Linked DNA regions of Homo sapiens: all the other regions are linked to region 2. The links come from fine-mapping of genetic effects on gene expression. A gene starts in region 2. Each other region holds a variant in brackets. All regions are shown on one strand. Distances are from middle to middle.

Region 1 (5,148 bases), 110 kb before region 2:
GCCTTATTGGGAAAGATATTTGTAGACAGGCTGTAAAGAAAAGATATCTTTCTCTTCCTCTACACAAATCCCATTTAAAAATAGTGATAAAGTGAAGAAGGATTCACATTCCAAAGAGGTAAGCCCACCCCAAATATGGCAGGTGGTGAATGCACAGACTTCACACAGCAGCCGTGCCTGGGGGTGGTGAGCCCAGCTTACTCAGTGACACTCAGCTTCTGTTGGTTGGGCTCCGTTCAGACAGTCTTTCAAGATGTGTTTATGTTTTCCTTTGGCATTTTGGGGGCAGAGTAACAGAATCAAGACTGTCCAGGATAGGGTTTTCCAGATTTATGGTGTACATTCCATTCCATAGGAGCATAAATGTGTTACTATGTATTCTCAAATGCAAATAGCACCAAGAATCCCACCCAGTCTCCTCCATCCTGTCCTAGTGCCATACAAATTCAGCTTAGGACTCGTACTGAGCACCTACTTCTGTATGAGATGGGGATACAGAGAGGATTTAGATACCACCTCTGCATCTGTAGGGGAAATAGGAAAAAAATGATTGTACAAAATGCTGCAAAAAAGGTATCCCACTCTCCCCAACCCCCTAAAAAAAAAGAAGAAGAAAGAAACAGAAAGAAAGGAAAGAAAGAATGGCATTCTGGAAGCCATGGAGTAAGCTGGGGGGAGGTTTCCTAAGAGAAGCATGTCTCCAAGCATGGGTGGGGGTTTGAAATGCAGAGGTACAGTGAGAGGGCAGGATGGCTCCCAAATGGAAGCAACGAAGGGCAGATGCACCAGAAGACATGGCAGTGGCCCCAGGACAATGTGGAGCCATCTGCAGGGCCCTGGGAATAAGACATGGCAGTAAGGGGTGAAGGCAAGGCCAGACATGGAGGACTCCTTGAATGCCACCGAGTCAGGCTCAGATCTACGTTTCTTCTCACTTTCCCCTCTTCTTCTTACCTCCTACTAGCTAGACCTTTGCGGGAAAAGATAAAGGTGTCTGGGCTTTTTAAAGGCTTACATTTTGAAGAAATGTCTGTATTTTTATACAGAAATGATCTTCCCATTTCACTTTAAAAACAAAGACAACAAAAGTCGTGCGAAATATTGCATTTTCTTAAGGTGGGTAGCTTTCTGCCTTTAAGGAGCATTTGTCTCTCTCATCAGCTCTTGATGGTTCTGAGCTCTAGGAAGAACACAAATGCTTAAATGCAGAGATGTTTGAGCACTCCCAGCAGAAGTTCCATGTGAAGCAAATGGTTCTACAGTAAACCACAACCATTCCCAACAGCCACAGAGCATCTGTTCCAGGCACTTCTCAAGCAATAACACAACATGGGGGTTCCAAGGGATACCCTTTGAGAGGTCAACAACCCACGAGACAGGTGGAACTCTCTCTCCCCATCTCTCTCCCTTCCTTGAACTCCTATTGCATTTGGGTATGGCCAGTTCTATGGAGTTATGCCTTTAGATCATCATCCATCCATCTGTCCATCCATCCATCCCTTCCTCCCTCAAACATGTGAAGAAATCCCATGTGAGTCTATTCACATGCCTCCTTGAGAGCAGGGGCCATAACTTAATACACTTAACTTTTCCCCTGCAAAGCCTGCTTGGCACAGTGCGGTCACATAGTAAATGTGGTCCATGGACCAGCGGCATCAACCTACCCTGGGATCTTGTTGGAAAAGCCGAACCTACCAAATCAGAGTTGGCTTTTACTAAACTCTCCAGATAACTCATATGCCCATGAAGGCTGGAGATGTGCTGGTCTAAATCTTGGTCCACGGAAAGTTCCATACGACCCTGGCTAACAGAGGGGTGTGGTCTGCATGGTCTGCAGTCACACATGACTGGGCTCAGGCCTGCACTGGAGGCAGACAAGGCAAGGAGGAGCCTGAGTTAAAGGTGGCAGAAAGGAGAAGTGAGTTTTAAGGAGAGGAATGGATGGAGGACCCTAAAGGAGATGATGGATGCATGACTTTGTAAAGCCTCCTGCGGTCTTTTTTTAAAGCAGGTGGTGGGTCACTTTTCCTATGTCCCTTTTTTCCAGTAGGAATTGGGCTCAGTGCAAGGAAGAGACTGACCCATGATTAGAACTGGAGCCCTGGATTCCATGGAGACAGTGTCAGGGCAGAGCCAGCAGGGGAGCGGAGTCAGCCACCTGAGCCTCCTTCCCGTGGTGGCCCCTTAGCCCTGCCCCCCAGGGACTCCTGACTGATGAACTCCTCCTAGGTGGGACATACCAAGGAAAGCAAGGAGCTAACTATGATGTCCCTAGGACTAGTAGGGTAGATGCCACCTCAGAGAAAGCCAGGCCCCTGCAAACCAAGTTTATCCTGCTCCAGTGCGGGGGGCGGGGGGCAGTGGGCCTGCCCTCTAGGAAGTCCCTGAAAAGCCCCAGGGAACATACATGTGGTAAGTTTCTAGTGAGCTCCTTTGCCAAAAACAACCTTGAGAGGGAGCAGGACAGTGCATGCTGCCCTTCCCCATGAGGGCCCCTCAGCTGTCCCCACACCCAGCACCTATCCGGAGGCAGCCAGGGCCCCATTGTGTTCTGCACCGCCCCGATCTCCACTCCAGCCTCCAGGCCAGCTCCTTAGCTGATCACCCACCCACTGCCCTTGACACTCTCCCTCCCAGAATCCTGGGTGCAAAATCTTGGGGTCCTGCTCGACTGTCTCCCCTTACTCTATCCTCCCTCCTGTCCCATTCCCCCTCTCATTCCTCGGCCAGCATTTCTTCATCCCCTGTGTTGAGCACAAGCTATGCGCCAGGCACTTGCTAGGTGGTATGGAGGGACAAAAGAAAGCTCTATTAGACATGAATCCTACATGCAAGGAGATGACTACCTCTCGGGGGATACACAAAAAGCCAAACTGTAAGGTAAACAAGTTATAATATATTGTGATGTCATGTGGCATTCTATGATGTGCTGTAGCACAATACAATGTCATGGACAGAAGCGCTCTGTTCTGCCCTTTCACTGAAAATAGCTCTTCCTGACACAGGCTTGGGTAGTGAAAGCAGCTTGGTCACATCTGTCCCATGGTGTAACTAATCTTTAGGATCTGCAGAGACCTGCCTTCCTCTGCAATTGTAACTGTACCTCCAATCGTGAGTTTCGTCTGGCAGCTTAACTGGGCTACCAGCGAGGTCCTCATAATGGCTTTTGCTCCTTGCCTCGCGGAGACCCGACTCTGGAATCCTTAGCCAGTGGTATATGAGCTTCTTTCTCATGGGGGATAG[G/A]AGGAAAGAATCCTGCATGTGCCCCAGTTTCCTCCCATGCAAGCCTGTCAAGAGGCCCATCTTTATCCTAAAAGTGCCTAGAGGCTGGGCGCGGTGGCTCACGCCTGTAATCCCAACACTTTGGGAGGCCGAGGCGGGCGGATCACCTGAGGTCAGGAGTTCGAGACCAGCCTGACCAACATGGAGAAACTACTAAAAATACAAAAAAATTAGCCGGGCATGGTGGCGGGCACTTGTAATCCCAGCTACTTGGGAGGCTGAGGCAGGAGAATCGCTTGAACCTGGGAGGTGGAGGTTGCAGTGAGCCGAGATTGTGTCATTGCACTCCAGCCTGGGAAACAAGAGCGAAACTCCGTCTCAAGAAAAAAAAAAAGTGCCTAGAAACTTACCACATTCTTAATGCTTTCCTGGGTAAAAATACAAAGAAGTGAGGGTTGGCTGCCTTTTAATTTCCCCAGATTAGATGCTGCAACTGCACTTCCTGGCTCCGTCCTCTTGAGCAAGTGAATTCGCTTCTCTGAGCATCAGAGAAGTAATCGGTAAAACAGGGATAATAGTAATTTACTCATGGGCTTGTTGTGAGCAGTAAATGAAGTAACAAACATAAAGCCTCGGGAGAATGCTTTACACGGGAGGCTTAGAGTAAATGTTTATTATTGCAAGTACTACTCTTCTTGGTCTGCATCTGATTTATTTACCCTTCCTGCACACACCTGCCGTACCACAAATAGACAATATCATTTATCTGTTTTTAATTTGGGTCTCATAAAAATTTTTGTCTTAAGTTATGTTTGCATGAGTTTGGATTATAGCTGATACGATCTAGGTTGATTGATGAATATCCTGGAATTTAAGGTATAGCGCTGAAAACATCTTAATTGTTTTAAAATCTGTTAGGAATAAAAACTAGATTAAGAAACTTTCAATATTACCTGGAAAAAAAAAAAACTTGGCACTGGGGATAAGTGGCCCCAATTCTTCAGCACAAGTTTTCCCTAAGAAGAACAGGAACTTCTAAATTGATCATAAAGGCTCGGAAGGCTTGGATAGGTATTGGCCTTCTCATTAGTTACCAGCTTAAACAAAAAGATAAGTATGATATAACTGTGGGAAGATTACTATTTGGGAAAAAACTGTCTGCAAGGCCTTTTAAATTTGGTTTGATAAGAAGCTCTAAAGGATCTAACTCAAAAAAATAAGAGGGAAAAGCTGGTCCTTCTCATGTCTGGATAGTGCCAATACTATATTTTGTAGTCAGAAACAGTTTAAAGTGAGTGAAAAAGATACCTGATTGTATATAGGTGTTTCTGTTTCTTTAAATCTTGCTTGGAGTTTTGTAACTTTAATTCTAAATTACCTATCCTGATTCTCCATGATCTTTGTACTTAGTTGTATTAATAAAAGTTTCTAGTTTGTAGGGAAGATGTATTTAAATAGAAAAGTGAGGCTGGGTGTGGTGGTTCATGCCTGTAATCCCAGCACTTTGGGAGGCTGAGGTGGGAGGATCGCTTGAGCCCAGGAGTTCGAGACCAGACTGGGTAATATAGCAAGACCCTAGCTCTACAAAAACATTTAAAAATTTAGCTGCGTGTGGCATTCATGTCTGTTGCCCTAGATACTGGAGAGGCTGAGGCAGGAGGATCACTTTAGCACGGGAGGTTGAGGCTGCAATGAGCCATGATTGTACCACTGTACTCCAGCCTAGGTGACAGAGCAAGACCCTGTCTTAGAAAAAAAGAAAGAAATCTTAATTGAAAAAAAAAAAAAAAGAAAAAGAAAAAAGAAAAGTACACGTGCCAGGTCATTCAGACTCAGTCCTCAGATAAAACAGAGTTCACCTGTGACAGAGGGTCACAATTGCAGGCAAAGTGCCCAGGAGTGCTGACTTGGCAAATGCAACCTAAC
Region 2 (5,148 bases):
CCCAGGCTCAAGTCATTCTTGTGCCTCAACCTCCTGAGTAGCTGGGACTACAGGCATGTGCCACCACACCTGGCTAATTTTTTGTATTTTTGTAGAGACGGGGTTTCACCATGTTGCCCAGTCTGGTCTTAAATTCCGGAGCTCAAACAATCCACCTGCCTTGGCCTCCCAAAGTGCTGGGATTACAGGTGTGAGCCATTGTGCCTGGCCAGTTTTCCCTACTTATTAACATCTTGCATTAGTGTGGTACACTTGTGATAATTGATAACCCAATATTTATACATTATTATTAGCTAAGTTCCATAGTTTACATTAGGGTTTACTCTTTGGATTGTATAGTTCTATGAATTTGACAAATGCATAATGTCATGACAAATGTATGTCATGTATCTGTTATAGCATCATACCGAATCATTTTAGTGCCCCTAAAATCCCCTGTGCTCCACCTATTAATCTCTCCTTCTCTATCCCAAGCCCCAGTAACAACTGATATTTTTATTGTCTCCGTAGTTTTACCTTTTCCAGACTGTCATACAGTTGGAATCATACAGTATGCAGCCTTTTCACACTGGCCCGTTTCACTATGTCTTTTCCTGGCTTGATAATTTTTTATTGATGGAAAATATTCCATTGTATAGCTGTATCACAGTTTGTTTATTCACCTTTTGAGGGACATCTTGGTTGCCTCCAGCTTTTGGCAATTATGAATAAAGCTTTTATAAACATTCATGTGCAGGTTTTTTGTGCAGACATAATTTTCAGCTCATTCAGCTAAATACTTAGGAGTGCTATTGCTGGATCATGTGGTAAGACAATATTTAGCTTTGTAAAAAACTGTCAAACTGTCTTCTACAGTGACTGTACCATTGTGCATTCCCACCAGCAATTAATGAGAGTTCCAGTGGTTCCACATTCTCATTAGCATTTGGATTTTTGAATTTTAATCATTTAATCATTCTAATAGGTGTGTAGTGGTGTCTCACTGTTTTAATTTGCAGTTCGCTAATGACATATGATGTTGACATCTTTTCATGTTTATTTGCCACCTGTATATCTTCTTTGGTCAACTCTTTTGCCCATTTTTAAATTGAGGTATTTTCTTTTTATTGTCACTGAAAAGAGTCAAACTGTAAAACATTTGAAGAGATTTATCCTGAGCCAAATACGAGTGACCAATAGCTCCCCCATGACACAGCCCTCAGGAGATCCTGAGAACATGTGTTCAAGATGGTCGGGCCACAAGTTGGTTTTATAAATTTTAGGGAGATATAAGGTATCAATGAATATATGTAAGATGTACATTCATTTAGTCCAGAAAGGCGGGATAACTGGAAGCAGGGAGGGGGGAGCGGGGCTTCCAGGTCATAGGTAGATTCAAAGATTTTCTGATTGGAAATTGGTGAAAAGAGTTAAGTTATTGTCCAAAGACTTAATAGAAAAGCAATCTGTGAGGACCAAGGTTTTATCAGGTGGACAAAGCTTCCAGGTAGCAGGTTTCAGAGAATAGATTGTAAATGTTTCTTATCAGACTTAAAGAGTCTGTTCTATCAGTAATTCCAAAAGGGAGGAGCATATAATGAAGTGTGTCTGGCTTCCCCTTTCCATCAACGTCTGAACTAGTTTTTCAGATTAACTTTGGAATACCCTTGACTGAGAGGAGGGGTCTATTCAGATGGTTGAGGGGCTTATAATTTTATTTTTGGTTTACATTCTTAATGAGTTGCAAATGAGTTCTTTATTTATTCTGGATGCCAGCCCCTTATCAGATACATGATTTGCAAATATTTTCTCCCATTCTGTGGGTTGTCTTTCCACTTTCTTGATGGTATAATTTGGAGAACAAATGCTTTTATTTTGTGTAGTCAAATGGGGTTTTATCTCCTAGTCACTTGCATTTGTATTGTTTGTGCCAGAATGTGCAGAGGTAGAGATACAAGTAAGCAAGAGGAAGAGGGCAGTGGTAAAAGCAAGAGGAGACCCGACTGTGGAGACAATGAAGCAAAGGGAAGGTGAGACTTGAGTAATGGATGCACCTCTTGCTCTGGGAGCATCTGACCCTTTTTCCAGAGTGGATCCTGTTTGCTGTGAAGCCCAATTTATATGTTTGCTTCACTGCCAGAATCCCGCCCCCATCCCTCCCCACTGCAGGCTTGAGAAGTGGCCTCACAGACACGCCCTTCCCTCTTGACACTTTCATTCCAAATAGCTAGCTTTTCTGTACTTTCTCTGAGAAAGGTAATGTAAATGTAAAAGAAGTTTTTGAGGCTATTCTATAGAAGATGTCATAATTCAATGTTCCTCAAAGGCAGGGACTATATTTATTTTTTTTAAACCTCTCGGCACCTAATGCAAAATCTAGCACACAGACTCCCAAGAAATGTTTGCTTAAAGACGGATAGAGGGCCACAGGGGCAGGTTTTATTAGCAGTTGCTGAAGATGTTGGAATGCAAGGTGTCTCAGGCAGTCTGGACTAGGAAAAAGTTCTGTGTTGAAAACAAGAGAAGCAACGAAATAATTTATTATTCCCATTAAATAAAGATGCTGATGGCTCTCGAGATAGATATGAGGACCCCAGGACTCTGGGGAGTGAAGGAACTAAGCCGCTGCCATATCTGAGCTGAGTACTTAGGGGGAGGAGGAAGAGGAGGAGAAAGGCAAGCAGGAGGAGGCGGAGCCTTCTTGTCAGCATCTGTTAGTGGAGGTTGGGAAGCCTCTCCTCCTTCCCCCTCCCTCTTTGCCTCCACCTGGCTCCTCCCCATGTTCGTCCATCACCCCTCCCCCCTTTCCCAAGGACAATCTGCAAGAAAGCAGCGGCGGAGGAGAGCTAAGACTAAAAGGCAAGAGGGGCCATTGAGTGAAGAGCAAGGGGGAGAGCTGGGAGTGAGGTGGGAAGGTATGGGCCGGGAGCAGGCGGTAGGGAGAACTGAAAGGAGCAGAAAGGAAAAGAAGAGATACGGCATCCTAAGCTGGAGCCGAGAGGGGGATGGGCAGGGCAGTCGTGAAGGATCCTAGCCCCTTGGCCAGTCCCCTCCGCTTGCAGGCTCAGCTGCATTCCCCAGGAATCTGGGATGGGTGGGTGGGGCTCGGACGGGTTGCCCTTGGCTGCCTGACCCTACCCTGGCACTCACCCAATTCAAATCAGTGCTCCTATGATGCTGCTTTTCTGTTCCTCCCTGCCGCGTGCTTATATACGCACGTGATTTTAGAGATATGTTTTAATATCTGTCTGTTTTTGTCTACGTGCGTGTCATTGTGGGTCTGTAAGGGATGCTTATACATGAGTCTGCATGAATTTCTGTGTCCTGTGCCTCTATAACTGTCTTAGAGATTTCAGGAGAAGAATATGAGCGGTTTTTACAGGTCAGCACTCTTAAACTCCTCTTGTTATGGCGAATTTTCTCCCTCACTGACGCTTCCAGGGGTGGAAGAGCTCTGTGTGGGATTCTGCCCCCGTCATGAGCTCCAAGAGTGAATGAGAAGAAAAAACGGGAGGAAAGGGATCAGCATACCCAGATGTCTTGTTTTTTCCTTTCCACCTTTTTGCCTTCCTATTTGCCCTAGTCACTTAATCTTTCTTTTTGGAAAACAGCAGAAATTTGGACATGAACATTCCAGTTAAATAAGAGCGTCTCTAGTCACGCGTGTCTCTATGTTCCTTTCACTGTTTGTCACTATATGATTTCTCAAGTCCAAGTTAAAAGTGTGTTTTAAAGTAGAATATGGAGGTATATCTGTATCTAAGCCGATTTTACATTTTTCATATATTTGTATTTCATGTAGTTCATCAGTTCATTAACGTTTTCAACAAGTATTTATTGGGGTCCTGTAATGTGCATAGACTTTGCAAGTCTTTAGTGAGCTGTGGGAGAGTTTTTAAAAATGATCATGATCCCTGCCCTGGAGGAGTTCTCAGTCTAGTTAGGAAAAATGACTTTAGCAGCCATCCAGTCCAGTGGTTGGCAAACTTCGTCTGTAAAAGACCAGATAGTAAATATTTTAAACTGCAGGCTTATGAGTCTCTGTCACAATATCCATTCTGCTGTTGTAGCACAAAAACATCCATGATAATACGTGAATGAACGAAGGTAGTGCACATACTGAAATTTGAACTTAACATTTTTCACATGTCATGAAGTACTTTTTGCAACCACTAAAAAATATAAAAACCTTTCACAGCTTACTGCCATACAAAAATGTGAGAAGGGCTGGATTTGGCCTACAGGCTGTTGTATGCTGACCCCTGATCTAGTCCAACCCTCTTATCAGTGCGTACGAAACTATTAAAATGCCACATAAAGCAGGCCGAGCATGGTGGTTTATGCCTGTTATCCCAGCACTTTGGGAGGCAAGGTGGGCGGATCACCTGAAGTCAGGAGTTCAAGACCAGCTTGACCGACATGGTGAAAACCCGTCTCAATTAAAAATACAAAAATTAGCCGGGTGTGGTGGTGCATGTCTGTAATCCCAGCTACTCGGGAGGCTGAGGCAGGAGAATCACTTGAACCTGGGAGGCAGTGATCCAGTTTAGACAACATGTGGTTAGAGGAAGTCCAAAAGAAGGTTTCCTTGACCTGTGGTAATCAGTGAAGGTTTAATAAGGGTACAACTATCACTGGTCTTAAATGATGGAATGGGATGTGAATCTGTGGAAAGGGCCAGGGTAGCCACCTGGACAAGGGATGCAGTGTGCCCAGGCACTAAAGTGGGAAGAGCAAAGTAATGTTCAGGTGACAATGGAGCAGAGAATCTATAGGACCAACAGTTGAAGCTATATGCAAGGGCTAAATTGTAGAAGCTTCGAATGCCAACCCAACAAGTTGGGACCTTATTTGTTAGTACTGATTATATGTAGTACGTTCATTAATCTCTGTCTGTTAACACAATGCATGTTTGTGAATGTATGTCTTCATATATGTCTCATTGCATTATTTTATTATTTGTGTGGATTTGGGTGTTTATGTGACTTATGTCTCTATAGGCAGCTACCCTGAGTTCTCCAAATGCAGGGTAGAAGCAAGCACAAGCTGCCCGTAAAACTTGGGTTCCTGTGAATGAATACACATCTCCACTGAAGCCTAGGGACCTATGACCTTCCTATGAAGGTTTATTTTGTGTGTCTAATAGAGTGAAGAAAGGAACACAAGCAC
Region 3 (5,148 bases), 290 kb before region 2:
GCAGAGACAATGTGCAGACATCTCCCTTGGGCAGGCCCTGAGTCCTGGGCTCCAGGGTTCCCTGCACTGAGCATTTTTTTTTTTTTTTAGACAGAGTTTGGCTCTTGTTGCCCAAGCTGGAGTGCAATGATGCAATCTCGGCTCACTGCAACTACTGCCTTCCGGGTTCAAGCGATTCTCCTGCCTCAGCCTCCCGAGTAGCTGGGATTACAGGCACACACCACCACACCTGGCTAATTTTTTTGTATTTTTAGTAGAAACAGGGTTTCACCATGTTAGCCAGGCTGGTCTTGAAGTCCTGACCTCAGGTGATCCACCTGTCTCGGCCTCCCAAAGTGCTGGGATTACAGGTGTGAGCCACCATGCCTGGCCCCCTGCACTGAGCTTTTAAGAGATCATTTAGGCCTGCGTGGTGGCTCACACCTGTAAACCCAGCATTTTGGGAGGCTGAAGTGGGCAGATTACCTGAGGTCAGGAGTTCAAGACCAGCCCGGCCAACATGGCAAAACCCCGTCTCTACTAAAAACACAAAAATTAGCCAGGCGTGGTGGCAGGCACCTGTAATCTCAGCTACTCCGGAGGCTGAGGCAGGAGAATTGCTTGAATCCAGAAGGCAGAGTTTGCAGTGAGCTGAGATCGTGCTACTGCATTCCAGCCCGGGTGACAGAGTGAGACTCCACCTCAAAACGAAAGAAAGAAAAAAAGAGATCATTTAAAAGTACCCAGAAGAATGGACAGAGTGAGGAGGTGTTGTACTGTGGTTAAGAGCAAGGATTTGGTGTCGAGCTGCTTGGGCTGGAGCTTGTTGCTTCCCCACTGCTTGACCTTACGTATATTATTTAACCTTGAGGAGTCTTGGTTTCCCATCTGCAGATTAGGGTATGAAGTGCCTGCTATATTAGGGTTTTGCGAGGACCGATGAGATTGGGACATGAAGTACTTAACTACAGTGCCTGGCACACATTGGGCTGTTAGGGACAGAGCTCCAATGCTCACATCAGTAATAGAAGAGAGACAGTGTCCTGTCTCTTCTGTCTCCCTAAGCCTGTTTTCCTCTATAATTTGAGGTCTCAAAGTGAGCACTGAGCTGATTTATGCAAATGAATCCAGTAGGGCCTATCGCCCAAGCTGACCTTTCTAGGGTATACAGGGTAGCTTGGCCAGGCTACAGAAATGGGAAAATAGGTGCAACCTTCCTGATCCTCCTGAAATCCTCAAGTGTTGTCTTGAAGTTGAGGGGAACCAGGACCAGGCTGCGGGGAGTACCACAGGGACTGCAGAAAGGGCCTGGCCTCCCCTCCCGAAACACTGCACATCTGGAGTGATCTGCCCATCTGGCTGTATCCCTGGGGCAATGGCCACAGCTGCTATTTGAGGGAGGAGACATCCAGCTCCTTAGCCAGGGCCTGGGGCCGGGGGGTGGGGGGGTGGTGGGTAGTGGGGGCTATAAATAAGAGGACCAGGGGGGCAAGGTTGACCTTTTGGGGCGGGGGGCAGGAGCTGGTGACTTCCCCCTCTTTGCTTGAGTCCAGAGCCAGAGTTTTAGCAAAACAGGAAGAGGCAGCAGCAGCTTCTGGGAAAGTGGGAGTGGCTCCCCTTCCCCCACTTGCCTGGGGCCTTCGGATCCCAGCCAGGACCTGGGAGAGGTGGAGTCATCTAGGCAAGGAGAGGGAGGGGCAGACCCACGCAGACTGGGCCCCAGCTTCAGTGCCCTCAAATGGCGCAGCCGGGGCACAGGAAAAGGAGAATGAGACAGAGAAGGGCAGCCCAATGGAGTATATCTGCCACCCCTCGTCCCCTCCTGTTCCCTTCTATAGGCATTAGAAATGGAGCTCAAAATGTGCCTGTGACCCAGGTAGTGTACATGGAAGTTCGAGGTCAAGTTGAGCACACCTCCATCTCTCATCCCCTCCCAGCCTGTGGTGAGCTAAGCCTAAGACAGAGTGCGTGGGAGGGAGGGCTCTAGACAGGAGGAAGGACACCTCTGGGCTTCTGGAAAGAGATCCAGGACCTGGCCCAGGTGGAGTGATAGAAAAATCTTCCAATGAACTATCAAGGTGAGGGGATCCAAAGGTCTGGGTGGTCCTGGGTGAGTGTTTTTCCAGAATAATGGGGCATCTACAGGGACAAGCTCAGGAGAGCTAAGCCTCAGTCCAGAGACCCTCATGAAGTCAAAGACTGAAGGAATTATCCAGGAAATGTTGCCTGGCTTTGCTTCGCCTGAGTGAGGCTGGCCACTGAGAATCTGTCCTTCAGTGTCTGTCTGGAGACATCTGGTTGGAGCTCTGGCTGGCCCACACCTGTAGTAGGGCCTGCACCTGTGTCTGTCATGTACTGCCCTTGTCTCCCGAGCCTGGAGCCCCACACTTCACCTGCTGGGAGGGTCTAGATAAGCGCTGTCCAATAGAAACGGAATGTGAGCCACATATGTAACTTATTTTCTATTAGCCACATCAAAAAAAGGAAAAATAAACAGGTGAAATTCATTTTAGTAGTATATTTATGTAACCTAATATAGTAAATCTAAAACATTATTTTGGTATGCAATCAAAATAAAAAATTACTAATGAAATCTTTTACATTTTTTTTCCATACTAAGTGTTTGAAAGCCAGTGTATATTTTATACTAACAGCACATTTCAATTCTGACTGGCCACATTTCAAGTGCTTAGTAGCCACATGTGGCCACTGGCTACTGTATGGACAGCACAAGTTTAGACTTATAGCTTTACCTCTTCTTCATCCCTTCCAGTCTCTTATTGGGGAAGAGGCTCAAGAGGTGAAGGAAAAAGCTGGTGAGGCCAGTGTTAAGGGTTAATTTGCTCTAGGAGGGTGACCACTCCCTTTGGGTTTCAAGCATCTATCTCTAGACCTG[G/T]ATCCGTTTTAGTGTCCAGGCAGGCAAGGAAATTGAGGCATAGAGCAGCATCTTCCCTGACAACTGGCCTTCTCCTGCCCTTCCCAGTGCTCCTTCTCTGAGCAGAAGGTTGATAGAATCCGATTACCTCTTCAGGCGCATTAGCCTCCACCTTCCTCTTTCCTCTTCCAAAAGCGACTCCAAACCCAAAGGTATTTGAGTAGCTGAGTTAAGGAATATGGGAGGAGAAGCAAATTTGGAGGAAAATGCAGAATGGAGCTTTGCACAGGTGGAGTTTGAGGTGTTGGTGGGATGAGCAAGGGGGGTTGTTGAGTGGACAGTTGGTATCTGGAGCTCAGGGAAGAATTTGGAGGTCATCAGTGAGAGAGGAAATTGTAGGAATGAATGACACCACAAGAGCAGGGGAGAAGAGAGGAGAGAAGGGGAGGGCAGGGAAGATGGCTAAATACAGAAACCTGAGAAAACAAAGACTTCAGATGGGCGAGGAGTGGAAGCTGGAGCAGGCCGGGAGCAGTCACAGATTTCAATGAAGCAAGAGGAAGTGCATCGGAATCCCAAGTGGGAGAGAATATCAAGAAGGAGAGACTCGCACACGGTTGCAGTTGACAATGCTTTAAAATCATTTTTTTGTTGTTGTTTGTTTTTGTTTGAGATGAAGTCTTGCTCTGTGGCCCAGGCTGGAGTGCAATGGCATGATCAGGGCTCACTGCAACCTCCGACTCCCAGGTTCAAGTGATTCTCCTGCCTCAGCCTCCCGAGTAGCTGGGACTACAGGCACCCGCCACCAAGCCCGGCTAATTTCTATATTTTTAGTAGAGACAGGGTTTCACCATGTTGGCCAGGCTGGTCTGACCTCAGGCAATCTGCCTGCCTCGGCCTCCCAAAGTGCTGGGATTACAGGTATGAGCCACCGCACCCGGCCCTAAAATCATTCTTATAAAGAGAGCTCACACAAACTGTTAAGAAGCACTAGAACAGTGGAGACTAAAGTTCAAAGCCCAGAAACAGACTCTCCTGGTACAGAGGAAACACAACTCACAAGCAGAGGTAGGGGTATGTTCAACCTGATCGTCCTCAAAGTAATGCCAATTAAAATGAGACAAAGGTAGGTGCCTTTTTGAAACATTAGCGAGAGCTCGGTGAAGTGTGTGTGCTGTCGGTAATGGCGTAACCTCTTTTGAAATCAGTTTGGCAATATATAGTAAGAGCTATAATGTGCTGTTACCCTTTGGCTCAATAACCCCACCCAGTGTATCCTAAACTAGATTTCTATAGTCAAAATTGGGGGAGGAGGAGCGGAGTATGTGCCTAATGATGTCCCCCATCACACTGCCTATAATATAGAAAATTAGAGACAATTTGAACACTTATGATTGGAAAATTGTGGAGGTAAATTATGATACTATATTTCCACTTAATAGAAAACTATGAAGCTGTTAGGAAGATGTTTATATGCAACACAGCATCACAAGAGAATAGAGATTGGTACATACCCCATGATTGCAACTGTATTAAAAAACATATAGGCATGGAGGAGAAGGTGAAGAGGAAATATGTGTCATAGGTAATGATTATGTAGGGTGGAATGGGTATATATGGTTTTGGTCTCATTTAATGAGTCTTAACATTGCGGAGAGCGGGAATGAGGGTTGACCAGAAGCTGAGATTTGGGTCTCAGCTATAGCAAGGGCCCTGACAACCTTCCAGAGGCCACAAATGCATTTATCTGGCAACTTAATAGACTGAGCTCCGACCGCAAGGCAGGTGCGGTCACTGTGGGTATCAACTCAGCATTCTCCTGATAGGAAAAAGCCCACCGTGAGGGGTGATGGCCAGGTGCTCACTGCAGATTCCCTCCCATATATGGGAGGCTCCTGGAGCTCCATAGTCTCCTCTACTACTGCTGAGGAGCAGGCCATGGCAGGCGCCTGTGGGGACAGCCCCCAGAGGACAGGGCTGACTGCAGGAGGAACAGAGCATCACAGTGAGGTGAGCTCAGCGGGTATGAGGGCCTCTCTGCTTTGGGGTGGGGGTTGGCGGGCTGTGGTCGGCCACCTGCTGTTTCACATCACCCCCTGAAGGTGACATGAGATGCAGGGGCCATCACCTTCACGGCGCCCCCAGGAACTCTACCCGGGCCCCCACCTACAGGCGCCATTAGGCCTCCTGCTCCTCCCCGTTCCACTCTCTTCCCACAACAACACACTGGGGCCTTGAAATAACACATCTTTCTTTACGCCATCATTTCCACAGAATTTGCCTATGATTCATTT
Region 4 (5,148 bases), 24 kb after region 2:
GAGTGGTTCGCACACAGTGGCTGTGATGAACGTGGGGGCTCCGGCTGCAGGCATGAATGCTGCTGTTCGCTCCACTGTGAGGATTGGCCTTATCCAGGGCAACCGAGTGCTCGTTGTCCATGATGGTTTCGAGGGCCTGGCCAAGGGGCAGGTATGGGGACTATTCTGGGACCTAGGAGCAGTCATGGGGAAGATAAGTGTAGCAAGAATGACCTGTCCATTCTCTTGGCTTCCTCTGTTCCTCACTACCTCTCTCTCCTCTCTCAGGGTCCAGGCAGAAGTAGATATTTAATACTAGGGCAGTAGGAACAGCAGGAATTACTGCAGTGAACCATTGCAAACAACATGTCTTATTTAATTCTCTGTCCCAAAGCTCAGCACAGTGCCTGGCATAGGTAGATGCTTAATATTTGTGAATGAGCAGTAAGGGTAGAAGAAGTTGAGTGCGTGGGGAAAAGCTAATACCTGGTGTACCTTTTCCAACCAAGGGGGATCCAGGGGTAGGGTTAGAACTCAAGCAGTGGCACCAGTCCCACACAGGCCTCCTAGTGCTTTAGCCTTGTGCAGAGCTCTGTGGCTTATCCCCACAGATAGAGGAAGCTGGCTGGAGCTATGTTGGGGGCTGGACTGGCCAAGGTGGCTCTAAACTTGGGACTAAAAGGTAAGTAGCACTGCAGAGGCACCTCCTCCCAGTCACCTCTTAAAGTTGCCCTTGGATGTGGGTTCATTATGCCATGGTCTGCTTCAACCACCCTGTTGTCTGGGTCCTCCACCCTCAACCTCACAGTTGCTGCCATGAGGGCAGACATGCCCATCTCAACATCTTTAGCAGCTCTGGCAACTTAGAGCTCCAGTATGTATCCTTGGATAGGACTGAGAGGGTGGGCTAGGGAGGGCGGCACAGGTCAAGAAATTAAAAATAAAGTGCCTCTAACTCTAGCTTTTCTCCCCCTCAATTTTCCTGTCTCTTCCCCAAATTCCAATTCCCCTTCCCCTCCCCGCCATCACTGATCAACTAGGACTCTACCCAAGAAGAGCTTTGAACAGATCAGTGCCAATATAACTAAGTTTAACATTCAGGGCCTTGTCATCATTGGGGGCTTTGAGGTGAGTGCCTGCCACCATTTCTTCCTCTCTCCCTCCTACCTCCTCTCCCTCTCCCCAATCCTGCCCTTGTGCTCTCTTCTTCTTAGGCTTACACAGGGGGCCTGGAACTGATGGAGGGCAGGAAGCAGTTTGATGAGCTCTGCATCCCATTTGTGGTCATTCCTGCTACAGTCTCCAACAATGTCCCTGGCTCAGACTTCAGCGTTGGGGCTGACACAGCACTCAATACTATCTGCACAGTGAGAGCCTATCACCACTTCCCATCCCTTTTGGCCAGGATTATAATCCTTAAACTGAGTGTGGTCCCAAACAGTGAGCTACTCTTTATATCAAGCAAATGGGAATGTTTGAAAATGATTCTTCAGCTGGGCATGGTGGCTCACACTTCTAATCCCAGCACTTTGGGAGGCCAAGGCAGGCAGATCACTTGGGGTCAGGAGTTCAAGAGCAGCCTGGCCAACATGGTGAAACCCCATCTCTACTAAAAATACAAAAACTAGCTGGGTGTGGTGGTAGGCGCCTGTAATCCCAGCTACTTGGGAGGCTGAGGCAGGAAAATTGCTTGAACCTGGGAGGCGGAGGTTGCAGTGAGCAGAGATCGTGCCACTTTACTCCAGCCTGGGTGACAAAGTGTTCAGTTTCCTCACCTAGAAATGCACCAGTACCCTGAATACCAAATGTTTTGTTTGTTTTTTTTTTTCTTTCTGAGATCATGCAGTCTAATTTTCTGAGCAGTAGAAAGGATAGGTACAGCTTTCTTCCCAGGAGAGACGTTCTGCAGTGAGGTTGGCAAATATGCCTGTTACCCTAAATGCAAGAACTTGATGAGCTCTAAGGGCCCTGCTAGCCTATGGAGAATATAGTTCCAGGGTTTAATTAATGGCAAAGATTAAAGAGTGATAAGAATCAGGCCCCTGATCATGTCTTTCTAACTATAACCCATTGTCCTTGCAGACCTGTGACCGCATCAAGCAGTCAGCAGCTGGCACCAAGCGTCGGGTGTTTATCATTGAGACTATGGGTGGCTACTGTGGCTACCTGGCTACCATGGCTGGACTGGCAGCTGGGGCCGATGCTGCCTACATTTTTGAGGAGCCCTTCACCATTCGAGACCTGCAGGTAGCTGGCCACCCAGAGCCTGCTAGATAGCTCTCCCCTGTCTCCAGACTGTTTCCACAGTGATCTGAACTATGAGAGCTCAAGTTGAGGACCGAGCTGATTGGTCTGTAGAATCCTGTGAAGACCAGAAAGAGCACTATGCAGGCATTCTCTGGTGTCACCTCATATGCATGACCGCAGCTACTGTTGTTGGAATGCTGATTTTGAGTCAGGCGACCTGGTGCTAAGCCCTTTATGGGCATTTTTGCATTTTATCTTCACAATAGACATGCAAAGAAGATACTATCTCCATATAACATAGAAAGTTTAGAGAGGTTAAAAAACTTTTCTAAACTCCTAAGTGAGCAGATGGTTTAAGTGGTTGAGAAAGTCAGTGATCTTTTTACTACATCATGTCTCCCCTTCAGATTTCCCTTGCTGTCATTCTGCTTTTGAGAGAGATACTCT[C/T]TCAAAACAGAGATATAAAGTGTCAACACTGACACTGTGACCACAAGTCAGCCCTCTGAGGCAAGGGGAACCAGAAAGGCTTGGAAAGGGAGATTGGAGAGGGTGAGGGGCTGAACACTGACAGTTACTGCAGCTGTCTGTAGTGCTCCCTCTTCCAGTTCTGTCTCATTTGGAGTCATTGTTTAAATTTCAGTCCACACTGAGCTTCTTACAGGAATTAGGCACAGTTCAGGCCCAGGATTGTAAACAACTCTCTTCCATGTGTCTCTTCCTTCCTGGAGAGGTGTGGTGTGGAAGATGATTTATACCCAACCTTATCCATTCCCAGTTAGGCTTAGGATTTACTCTTTCATTTTCAGGCAAATGTTGAACATCTGGTGCAAAAGATGAAAACAACTGTGAAAAGGGGCTTGGTGTTAAGGTACCTCATCCATGGTTTGTTCCTAAATGAAGAAGAAAAATAAGCTTTGGCTCAAACCCATAGAATGGCCATTGTTGGGACACCCTGAGGAATCTGTAGATATAAAGGGAGGGGGCCAGCCTATCCCTTGAATCCTTGGAGGAGATAAAAATTGAAAGGAAAGAACAAAGGCAGAAATGGGGGATGGGAAGCCAACCACAGAGTCACAGGCTTTTGGTCTCCACCTGGCAGGAATGAAAAGTGCAATGAGAACTATACCACTGACTTCATTTTCAACCTGTACTCTGAGGAGGGGAAGGGCATCTTCGACAGCAGGAAGAATGTGCTTGGTCACATGCAGCAGGTAGGGAAGACACCGTAGTCATGCCCTTCATCAGACAGCCATACCTGCCAACAGCCATACCTGCCAACAGCCACTGAGGCTTCCACTGGCCTTTTCCAGTCTTCTGGAGGAGCCTGTCAGTGCCATCATAGAGCATGGGCCTGCAGTCTCTTACAGTCATAGAATCAAAACATCTTTATCCTGGAAATGACTTTAGAGATTATATGGTCTATCCTTTTCAAAAGCCCTCATGGGAGGGCTTTTCAACCTTGGCAGCTTTGCCTTTTGGGGCTGGATGATAATTTGTCATGGGTGGCTGTTCTATGCACTGTAGGACAGTTGCACAGCATCCCTGGTCTCTACCCACTAGATGCCAGTAGCACCTCCCTCTCACTCCCAATTGTAACAAAAATGTCTCCAAACATTCCCACTTTCCCACCTGCTTCCTCTTAATTCAAAGGAAATCTGTATGATGTTTTATATTAATTCTGAGGTGCTACCAAGGGCAGCCAGATTGGGCCACAAAAAAAACACTTTTATGTCATCATTGACAGTGATCAACAAAAGCTGCTGGGCTGAAGAGGGGCAGGCAGCTGACCCATTGGCCAATAAAACTAAAACAGGATCTGGCAGCTGTGGAGCTAAAAGAGGGGATTGTGGGGCCAATCATCTTTAATTAGTTGTTATTATATCTGATACATGGCCAAATTTGCTGGGCCAGCTTGCCTTGGATCCTGGCACTGCCTCAGGGCACCCTTTCATAGTTTGACTTCTGGATTCCTGTTTTGGGCTGTAAGCCTGGGGCCCATCTTTCTTTTTTTCTCTGTGTGTCTAGATATCTCTGCCACTTCATTAGAGTCCTTCCCTCTGTAATTTTTATGTTTCTTTCTCCAGGGTGGGAGCCCAACCCCATTTGATAGGAATTTTGCCACTAAGATGGGCGCCAAGGCTATGAACTGGATGTCTGGGAAAATCAAAGAGAGTTACCGTAATGGTAGGTGGGGTGAGAGCGAGTGCCCTCTATAGAGGCTGGTTCCCCAGTATAGAAGCTGACTGCCCATCCCTCATTGCAGGGCGGATCTTTGCCAATACTCCAGATTCGGGCTGTGTTCTGGGGATGCGTAAGAGGGCTCTGGTCTTCCAACCAGTGGCTGAGCTGAAGGACCAGACAGATTTTGAGTGAGTACATCTGCTTCCTGGAGTGGTTCTTTTCCCTGGTAGTTTCAAGCTCTACTGTCCTCAACCTGTTCACTGTCTTTAATTCTTTTTTTTTTTTAAGGAGTAACACCTGTATTCTTACCCATTTCAGATGTGATGCACATGTCCTAAATCTAACCTCTTCTGTCTAACTTCTTCCTATAAACCTTTGGTAGAAGTTGATTGGGGTGCTAAAAGATTATATCATCATCTACCTCATTCCTCTGTAGGCATCGAATCCCCAAGGAACAGTGGTGGCTGAAACTGAGGCCCATCCTCAAAATCCTAGCCAAGTACGAGATTGACTTGGACACTTCAGACCATGCCCACCTGGAGCACATCACCCGGAAGCGGTCCGGGGAAGCTGCCGTCTAAACCTCTCTGGAGTGAGGGGAATAGATTACCTGATCATGGTCAGCTCACACCCTAATAAGTCCACATCTTCTCAGTGTTTTAGCTGTTTTTTTCATTAGGTTTCCTTTTATTCTGTACCTTGCAGCCATGACCAGTTCTGGCCAGGAGCTGGAGGAGCAGG

What was found. PIP is the estimated chance that this variant, and not a neighbour inherited with it, causes the effect. A credible set is the group of variants that fine-mapping cannot tell apart.
Region 1: its variant is the best candidate, but not a certain one, in a credible set for the expression of PFKM in whole blood (INTERVAL, PIP 0.69).
Region 3: its variant is the best candidate, but not a certain one, in a credible set for the expression of PFKM in NK cells (Gilchrist 2021, PIP 0.57).
Region 4: its variant is the best candidate, but not a certain one, in a credible set for the expression of PFKM in whole blood (TOPMed, PIP 0.87).

What each region holds. Positions count from the first base shown.
Region 1 is chr12:48,008,346-48,013,493 of GRCh38, forward strand. No RefSeq gene overlaps it. Among named protein-coding and RNA genes, the nearest start is that of COL2A1, 6.4 kb to the left of the region's middle. RefSeq lists enhancers at 2,001-2,502, 2,503-3,002. The variant G/A (reference allele first, on the strand shown) is at 3,244.
Region 2 is chr12:48,116,569-48,121,716 of GRCh38, forward strand. PFKM (phosphofructokinase, muscle) reads left to right here and starts at 2,796. Exons shown (of 23, transcript NM_000289.6): 1 at 2,796-2,838. RefSeq lists an enhancer at 2,392-2,461.
Region 3 is chr12:47,827,474-47,832,621 of GRCh38, forward strand. It overlaps LINC02354 (long intergenic non-protein coding RNA 2354), which reads left to right and starts at 1,684. Exons shown (of 3, transcript XR_007063292.1): 1 at 1,684-2,057. RefSeq lists enhancers at 643-822, 4,559-4,608. The variant G/T (reference allele first, on the strand shown) is at 2,876.
Region 4 is chr12:48,140,721-48,145,868 of GRCh38, forward strand. PFKM (phosphofructokinase, muscle) reads left to right here. Exons shown (of 23, transcript NM_000289.6): 14 at 2-151; 15 at 591-661; 16 at 1,020-1,107; 17 at 1,194-1,346; 18 at 2,062-2,226; 19 at 3,033-3,094; 20 at 3,326-3,437; 21 at 4,311-4,410; 22 at 4,490-4,595; 23 at 4,844-5,148. The coding sequence ends at 4,988. Among named protein-coding and RNA genes, the nearest start is that of MIR6505, 10 kb to the left of the region's middle. RefSeq lists an enhancer at 1,711-2,692 and a silencer at 2,324-2,498. The variant C/T (reference allele first, on the strand shown) is at 2,674.